Linked DNA regions of Homo sapiens. Each later gene encodes a partner of the first gene's protein in a complex. Each region holds a gene or a part of one and is shown in the gene's direction. Other genes may lie near its edges. The genes, in order: RBL1 and LIN9.

Region 1 (3,825 bases):
CTTTGTTCATGTAAGACAGTGTCTTGCTTTGTCACCCGGGCTGGAGTACATGATTGAGGCTAACTGCAGTCTCGACATCCTGGGCTCAAGCAATTCTCCCACCTCAGCCTCCCAAGTACCTGGGGCTACAGGCACATGCCACCACACCCAGCTAATTTTTTAAATTTTTGTAGAGATGGGGTCTTAACTATGTTGCCTGGGAAATCTGGCTTTTTAATAAAGAGTCTTAGTCATGAATAGAATATTTCCTTTCAATCCATTATTTAAATGAATTTTAAAGGTGCCTTTTTTCTCCTCCTTTTTTTTTTTAGTTTAATACAATTTTTTAGTAAAATGAAGAAATGGATGGACATGTCAAATCTACCACAAGAATTTCGTGAACGTATAGAAAGGCTAGAGAGAAATTTTGAGGTGTCTACTGTAATATTCAAAAAATATGAGCCAATTTTTTTAGATATATTTCAAAATCCATATGAAGAACCACCAAAGTTACCACGAAGCCGGAAGCAGAGGTGAGCCCTTAATCCTTATATAATTGACATAAAGATTATGATACAAACTAAGAGAATATACTTTTTTGAAAGTCTGTTTTTTATGAAAAGTATTCCTGCAAAGAACTTAATTATTTTCTTTTTAAATCCATGTACAATTATCCATATTTGGAAATTCAGGATAATACTTTTACTTATTTTTCTTTCTGTTGTTGTTTTTTTTTTTTTTTTTTTTTTTTTGAGGAGTCTCATTCTGTTGCCCAGGCTGGAGTGCAGTGTCCTGATCTCGGCTCACTGCAACCTCTGTCTCCCAGGTTCAAGCAATTCTCCTACCTTAGCCTCCTGAGTAGCTGGGATCACAGGTGTGCACCACCCCGTCTGGCTCATTTTTTGTATTTTTAGTAGAGACCAGGTCTCACCGTGTTGGCCAAGGTGGTCTCGAACTCCTAACCTCAGGTGATCTACCCACCTCGGCCTCCCAGAGTGCTGGGATTACAGGCATGAGCCACCACACCCAGCCCTATGTTCTGATTATTTTATGCAGGTTGGAAAGGCTTACTTAAGTCCATTTCATAAATAATAGATTACTTTTCTTCATGAATGGAATTTCATGTGTAATTTGATCTATTTGATATTTACATTTACTATTTCAGTTTACATGATATTTAGCGAGCTAGTCAGACAAAAAGTAATTTTTTTCCCTTTTTAGGAGGATTCCTTGCAGTGTTAAGGATCTGTTTAATTTCTGTTGGACACTTTTTGTTTATACTAAGGGTAAGATGACACTTTCAGTGGTCTTACATTTCTACTCTGGGAACTTGGTGCTATTTGACATGAGAGGTTTCTGGTTTTTGTGTCTTTTTTTTTTTTTTTTCCCTTATAAAGGTAATTTTCGGATGATTGGGGATGACTTAGTAAACTCTTATCATTTACTTCTATGCTGCTTGGATCTGATTTTTGCCAATGCGATTATGTGCCCAAATAGACAAGACTTGCTAAATCCATCATTTAAAGGTAAGACCTTTTATTTATTTTTGAAAACTGATTATCAGTTTTTGGAAAAAGATTTTTAAAAGTTGACTATTTTTTTTTCCCTCTGCCCTTCCTACACTGTCAAACTAGGTTTACCATCTGATTTTCATACTGCTGACTTTACGGCTTCTGAAGAGCCACCCTGCATCATTGCTGTACTGTGTGAACTGCATGATGGACTTCTCGTAGAAGCAAAAGGAATAAAGGAGCACTACTTTAAGCCATATATTTCAAAACTCTTTGACAGGAAGGTACTGTACTTATAATTAGATGACTGAGATGTTTACAGATCACCAGTAATGTGAAAAGAAAAAAATGTTTTAAGCAAGTTCTCAGCATTATAGAACTTAGGGTCAGGATTCCCAGGCTTTAGCCTCTACTGTGATTCAGAATTTCCTTATGATCTTGTGTGATGTGAGAAACAGAGCTGTTGAAAAATGTGACCAACTATATGTACTGTTGGGTAAATGTACTGTCAGAGGCAACCGTAGGAGGTACTGATAAAGAATTGTAAAGAATAGAACATCAGAGTAGGGCTGACAAATAATTAGGAAAAACAGGAGGTCAGAATAAGCTGACTAATTTACTGCCACAATTTGAATAACTGCTGACTGTTGACTAAAAGTAGGATGATGTATAACAACCACAGTTTTAATTCCATGTAAATCGAGCAGAAAATCCATGATAGTTTTGTAGCCACTTGTAGGCTATCTGTGTGCATTCTGGACATTGTCTCCTTGGTAATTAACTTAGCTATTTCTACATTTATGAATTGGCTTGTTCCTTTGGGTTTCAATTTCTTATTTCCCCAACGTCGAGCCATTAAATGTAGTTAAGCCTCAAGATTTCTCTTTGGTAAAAGGAGGGGTTTGGATTATGGATCCCACTTTTCAAATATTATGAGATTTTTCTTTAAGCATAAATTCTTCCCTTACTGGTTTCTTCTTCTTTTATACAAATTTTTGTATTCAGTCTTGTGTTCCTCAGATATCTATATTATGGCCCATTGTCTGTATGCTAAACATCTCTAGCAAAGTAAACTTTTTTTAAAGGATCCCAGGGACTGGGCGCGGTGGCTCACGCCTGTAATCCCAACACTTTGGGAGGCCAAGGCAGGTGGATTGCTTGAGCCCAAGAGTTCCAGACGAACCTGAGCAACATGGCAAAACCTTGTCTCTACAAACAATACAAAAATTAGTTGGGCATGGTGGTGCACAACTGTAGTCCCAGCTACTTGGCACGCTGAGGCTGCAGTGAGCCATGATTGTACCACTGCACTGCAGCCCTGGTGACAGAACAAAACCCTGTCTCAAAAAAAAAAAAAAGTTAAAAAAAAAAGTTATTTGCATGCTAAATAGTTTATCCTAGTCTGAAAGAAATATTTAATAATTCTGTTTTGTGTGTGTGTTATAACAATATGGAAATTTAGATAAATTTCACGTTTGTGTGTGTATTAATATGCTTAATTATATGGTGTCCCAAAATAATTTTTTGTTCACAGATATTAAAAGGAGAATGCCTCCTGGACCTTTCAAGTTTTACTGATAATAGGTAAATATCTAGTACTAATGGTGCCTGGCTTATCACAAGCTGTCATATTTGTTGATTTGTTGAAATTTGTTAAGCATAACAGTATATCAAAGTAAGACCTCCAAATTCAAGTTCTCTCTGCTTTAGTGGCATTGAATGTTTATTATCACTAAGACTTGTTGGCTTTAAATACATTTATTTTAAGAAATCAAGGCCAGGCACGGTGGCCCACACCTGTAAACCCATCACTTTGGAAGGCCAAGGCAGGCAGATTGCTTGAGCTCAGAAGGTTGGAGACCAGCCTGGGCAACATGGTGAAACCCTGTCTCTACAAAAAATACAAAAATCAGCCAGACGTAGTGGTGTGAGCCTGTGGTCCCAGCTACTTGGGAGGTTGAGGTTGGAGGATCGTTTGAATCTGGGAGGTTGTGGTTGCAGTGAGCCGTGATTGCACCACTGCACTTCAGTCTAGGTGACAGAGTGAGACCCTATTTCCAAAAAAAAAAAAAAAAAGAAAGAGGCCGGGCATGGTGGCTCACGCCTGTAATCCCAACACTTTGGGAGGCCAAGGCGGGCCGATCACTTGAGGTCAGGAGTTTGAGATCAGCCTGGCCAGAGATCAGCCTGGCCAACATGGTGAAACCGCATCTCTACTAAAAATTCAAAAATTATCTGGGTGTGGTGGTGCACACCTGTAATCCCAGCTGCTTGGGAGACTGAGGCAGGAGAATCACTTGAACCCAGGAGGCAGAGGCTGCAGTGAGCTGAGATC
Region 2 (3,825 bases), on another chromosome or scaffold:
CCCTATCTGCTAGACCCCTGGTTCGGATCTATACTTAAGTCTTCCATTTGCCAGGAACTAGCATTTCTCTGTTGGACCTTAACGACACAGCACTTTAGTATAACCAAACTGATGAGTCCTGACTAAATAACCTTGGAGAAGAAGCTACATAACATTTTCATTGCAGCTGTTAGGTTAAAGTATAGTCCTCTTGCAAAATTGTTTTTAAAGTATAGTAACATCTTGTACTTATTTGTTCTCCTGTTTTATCTTCAGAGGCATGCAAGGTGGGTGTTAATTACCTTCACTTTTGCATGATGAAACTCAGACATAAGTACAATTGCGTAATTTATTCAAGGCTCTAGATCTGGTTTCCTATTAGGCTGAGACTAGAATTGAGATCTTTTTTTTTTTTTTTTTTTGAGACGGAGTCTTGCTCTGTCGCCCAGGCTGGAGTGCAGTGGTGTGATCTCGGCTCACTGCAACCTCTGCCTAGAATATACATACATACATACATACATACATATATACATAATATATATACACACACATATATATGTATGTCTTTGTAAATATATTTCCTAAAAGAAATATATATATATATATATATATATCTCCTTAGTGCAGAAATACAATATTGCTTGATATCTCTCCGCAATAGGAGAGAAAGAAAATTAGAACTAAATGTAGAACAGAGTACACTGCTCTTAAGTTTTTACATTAAAGGATGAAAGCTTTAAACTCTCCTTTCAAAAAAAGTAAATTGGCCAGGCGCGGTTGCTCACACCTATAATCCCAGCACTTTGGGAGGCTGAGATGGGCGGATCACCTGATGTCAGGAGTTCAAGACCAGCCTGGCCAACATGGTGAAACCCCATCTCTACTAAAAATACAAAAATTAGCTGGGTGGGGTAGCACATGTCTGTAATCCCAGCTACTTGGGAGGCTGAGGCAGGAGAATTGCTTGAACCCAGGAGGTGGAGGCTGCAGTGATCCGAGATCGCGCCATTGCACTCCAGTTTGGTCAACAAGAGTAAAACTCGGTCTCAAAAAAAAAAAAAAGTAAATTGCTTCTCTGTTTCATTAATTTAACTGTTTTTATGAGATCACCCAAATATTTCTCCCTGGCTAAATAAGAGTTGATTTTTAATTGTAGGGTATATTCAGACAGTCTAAATGCAGATAACCAAATGTGGCCATAGAAAACTTTAATATTAATCTTTGATTCTCTGAACTATTTTGACCCCCCCCCTTTTTTTTTATTTCTTTTTTTCTTCTGGAGGTTCATCCTTTTGGCAGCAAAGTAGTGTTTTCATACTCTGTTTCAAGTTCTAGCCTTTGATCTGTATAGACTAATATGCTACTCTATAAATAATTAAATATATAAGTAATAAATTCTATATGAATCATAGAATATGCGTGAATATATATCTCAAGCTGAAATACAATGATTATAAAGCTTAAATGATTGGTAAATTTCTTTAAGTTTTGTGAATTATTCTGTTTTCTCAGAGTAATGAACCTCATGAGACAATGCCAATTGCTGCCTTTGGACAAAAACAGCGGCCTTCTCGATTTTTTATGACCCCACCACGGTTACATTATACTCCTCCTCTCCAGTCACCAATTATAGTAAGTATATTTTAGAAATATCAATAATTTAATTGATTTTTATGAAGGTGAACTATGTTCTTAAGAAATACACATCTATTACAGCAACTTCAAAGTATGCACACTATTTTGAATTGAAAATATTAAATAAAATAAATAGTTGCTTCATCTCCAGAAATAATTTCCTTTTTATTGGATTTTAATATAATATTAATTATAACAGAATTTTCTCTTTTTCTAAAAATAAGATACTTCCTGGCCGGGCGCAGTGGCTCACGCCTGTAATCCCAGCACTTTGGGAGGCTGAGGCAGGCGGATCACGAGGTCAGGAGTTCGAGACCAACCTGATCAACATGGTGAAACGCCGTCTCTGCTAAAAATACAAAAATTAGCTGGGCGTGGTGGCGCGCGCCTGTAATCCCAGCTGCTCGGGAGGCTGAGGCAGGAGAATCGCTTGAACCCAGGAGTCAGAGATTGCAGTGAGCCGAGATCACAAGTGGCAACAGAGCGAGACTCCGTCTAAAAAAAAATAAAAATAAAAAAATAAGATACTTCCTCTGAATAGTCAATGATTAAATAATTCCTTTTTATTCCCATAGGATAATGATCCTTTATTAGGACAGTCGCCGTGGAGAAGTAAAATTTCTGGCTCTGACACTGAAACATTAGGTGGTTTTCCAGTAGAATTTCTTATCCAAGTGGTAAGAATTGTTCTGAATATCTTGGCTGTTTGTTTAAAAACTCAATGCCTTTTATGTTATTAAAGTTGAAAATTTTTCTAGGGCCGTGTAGGTTTATCACCGTGTAGGTTTTAAGAGCTGCTATTTCCAACAAAGCCTGAAAATAAAAGTTATAAAAACCAAAAAAGACTTAAAGATCTTTCTTCTTGAGCTTTGTCTTGTGTCTGAGTTCTTATTATTCTGCTATTTTAAGGGCTCAAACATTCTTGCATATGTTCTGTGAAATTCTGAATGTTTGGCTGTTAATAACTTGGGTAACTATGAAGGCTTTTATTTAGTAACCTCAGCATATTCTGCCATCATCAGTCAGTTCAACAGTTATGATGTCCTGGCTAGCTTATATGGTTAGAAGAAATTTTATTTCTTTTCAGAGACTAGAAACAGGTATTCACCTGCTAAGTACTTAGTGATTAGACACTAAGAAATCTAAGCCTAAACTGAACTAAGTGTAGAAGTATTATATTGGAAAATTTCCTTATAGCTGGACTCTTAAAAATGTAGTGAGTTTGAAAATTAGATTAAATAAATTTTTTAGTTTGAATCATAGTCTAATAATGTTTCATTTCCTTTTTGGAAAATGAAAACTACTTTGGCTTGGGATAGAAATGATCTTTATTTTCATTTGTTTATTTATTTATTCATTTTGAGACTGAGTCTTGCTCTGTTGCCCAGGCTGGAGTGCAGTGGGTCAGTCTGGGCTCACTGCAACCTCTACCTCCTGGATTCAAGCTTTTCTCCTGCTTCAGCCTCCTGAGTAGCTGGGATTACAGGCATGCACCACTATGCCCGGCTAATTTTTTTTGTAATTTTAATAGAGATGGGGTTTCACTGTGCTGGCCAGGCTGGTCTCCAGTTCCTAACTTCAAGTGATCCCCCCACCTTGGCCTCCCAAAGTGCTGGGATTAGAGGTGTGAGCTACTGCACCTGGCTGATATGATCTTTATAAATAAAAATGTTTATAACATAATCCATGAAAATATTCACAGTGTTCTTTTGCAGTTGATGTTATTTTGAGGAAAGGTCTTGTCAGTTGTGTGTCTGTATATAGCATTCTGTGTTCCTCAATCACATTTTTTTATTTAATATTTATTTATTTATTTGTTTATTTATTTTATTTGAGACAGAGTCTCACTCTGTCTCCCAGGCTGGAGTGCAGTGGCACGATCTCAGCTCACTGTAGCCTCTACCTCCCGGGTTCCAGTGGAATCACCTCAGCCTCCCAAGTTGCTGGGATTACAGGCGCACGCCACCACACCCAGCTAATTTTTTGTATTTTTAGTAGAGACGGGGTTTCACCATGTTGGCCAGGCTGGTCTCAAACTCCTGACCTCACATGATCGCCCTCGGCCTCCCAAAGTGCTGGAATTGCAGGCATGAGCGACTGCACCTGGCCTATTTATTTATTTATTTGTTTGTTTGAGACAAAGTCTTGCTCTGTTGTCCAGGCTGGAGTACAGGGGTGCCATTATGGCTCACTGCAGCCTTAACCTCCAGT

Evidence for each region.
Region 2: RBL1 (region 1) and LIN9 share a complex: the UniProt entries of both Homo sapiens proteins name them as parts of the DREAM complex.

What each region holds. Positions count from the first base shown.
Region 1 is NC_000020.11:37,064,673-37,068,497, reverse strand, and holds part of RBL1 (retinoblastoma-like protein 1), read left to right. Parts: intron 1-311; coding exon 312-512; intron 513-1,200; coding exon 1,201-1,265; intron 1,266-1,376; coding exon 1,377-1,505; intron 1,506-1,613; coding exon 1,614-1,774; intron 1,775-3,024; coding exon 3,025-3,074; intron 3,075-3,825. UniProt on the Homo sapiens protein: Key regulator of entry into cell division. Directly involved in heterochromatin formation by maintaining overall chromatin structure and, in particular, that of constitutive heterochromatin by stabilizing histone methylation.
Region 2 is NC_000001.11:226,263,999-226,267,823, reverse strand, and holds part of LIN9 (protein lin-9 homolog), read left to right. Parts: intron 1-1,491; coding exon 1,492-1,611; intron 1,612-2,189; coding exon 2,190-2,291; intron 2,292-3,825. UniProt on the Homo sapiens protein: Acts as a tumor suppressor. Inhibits DNA synthesis. Its ability to inhibit oncogenic transformation is mediated through its association with RB1. Plays a role in the expression of genes required for the G1/S transition.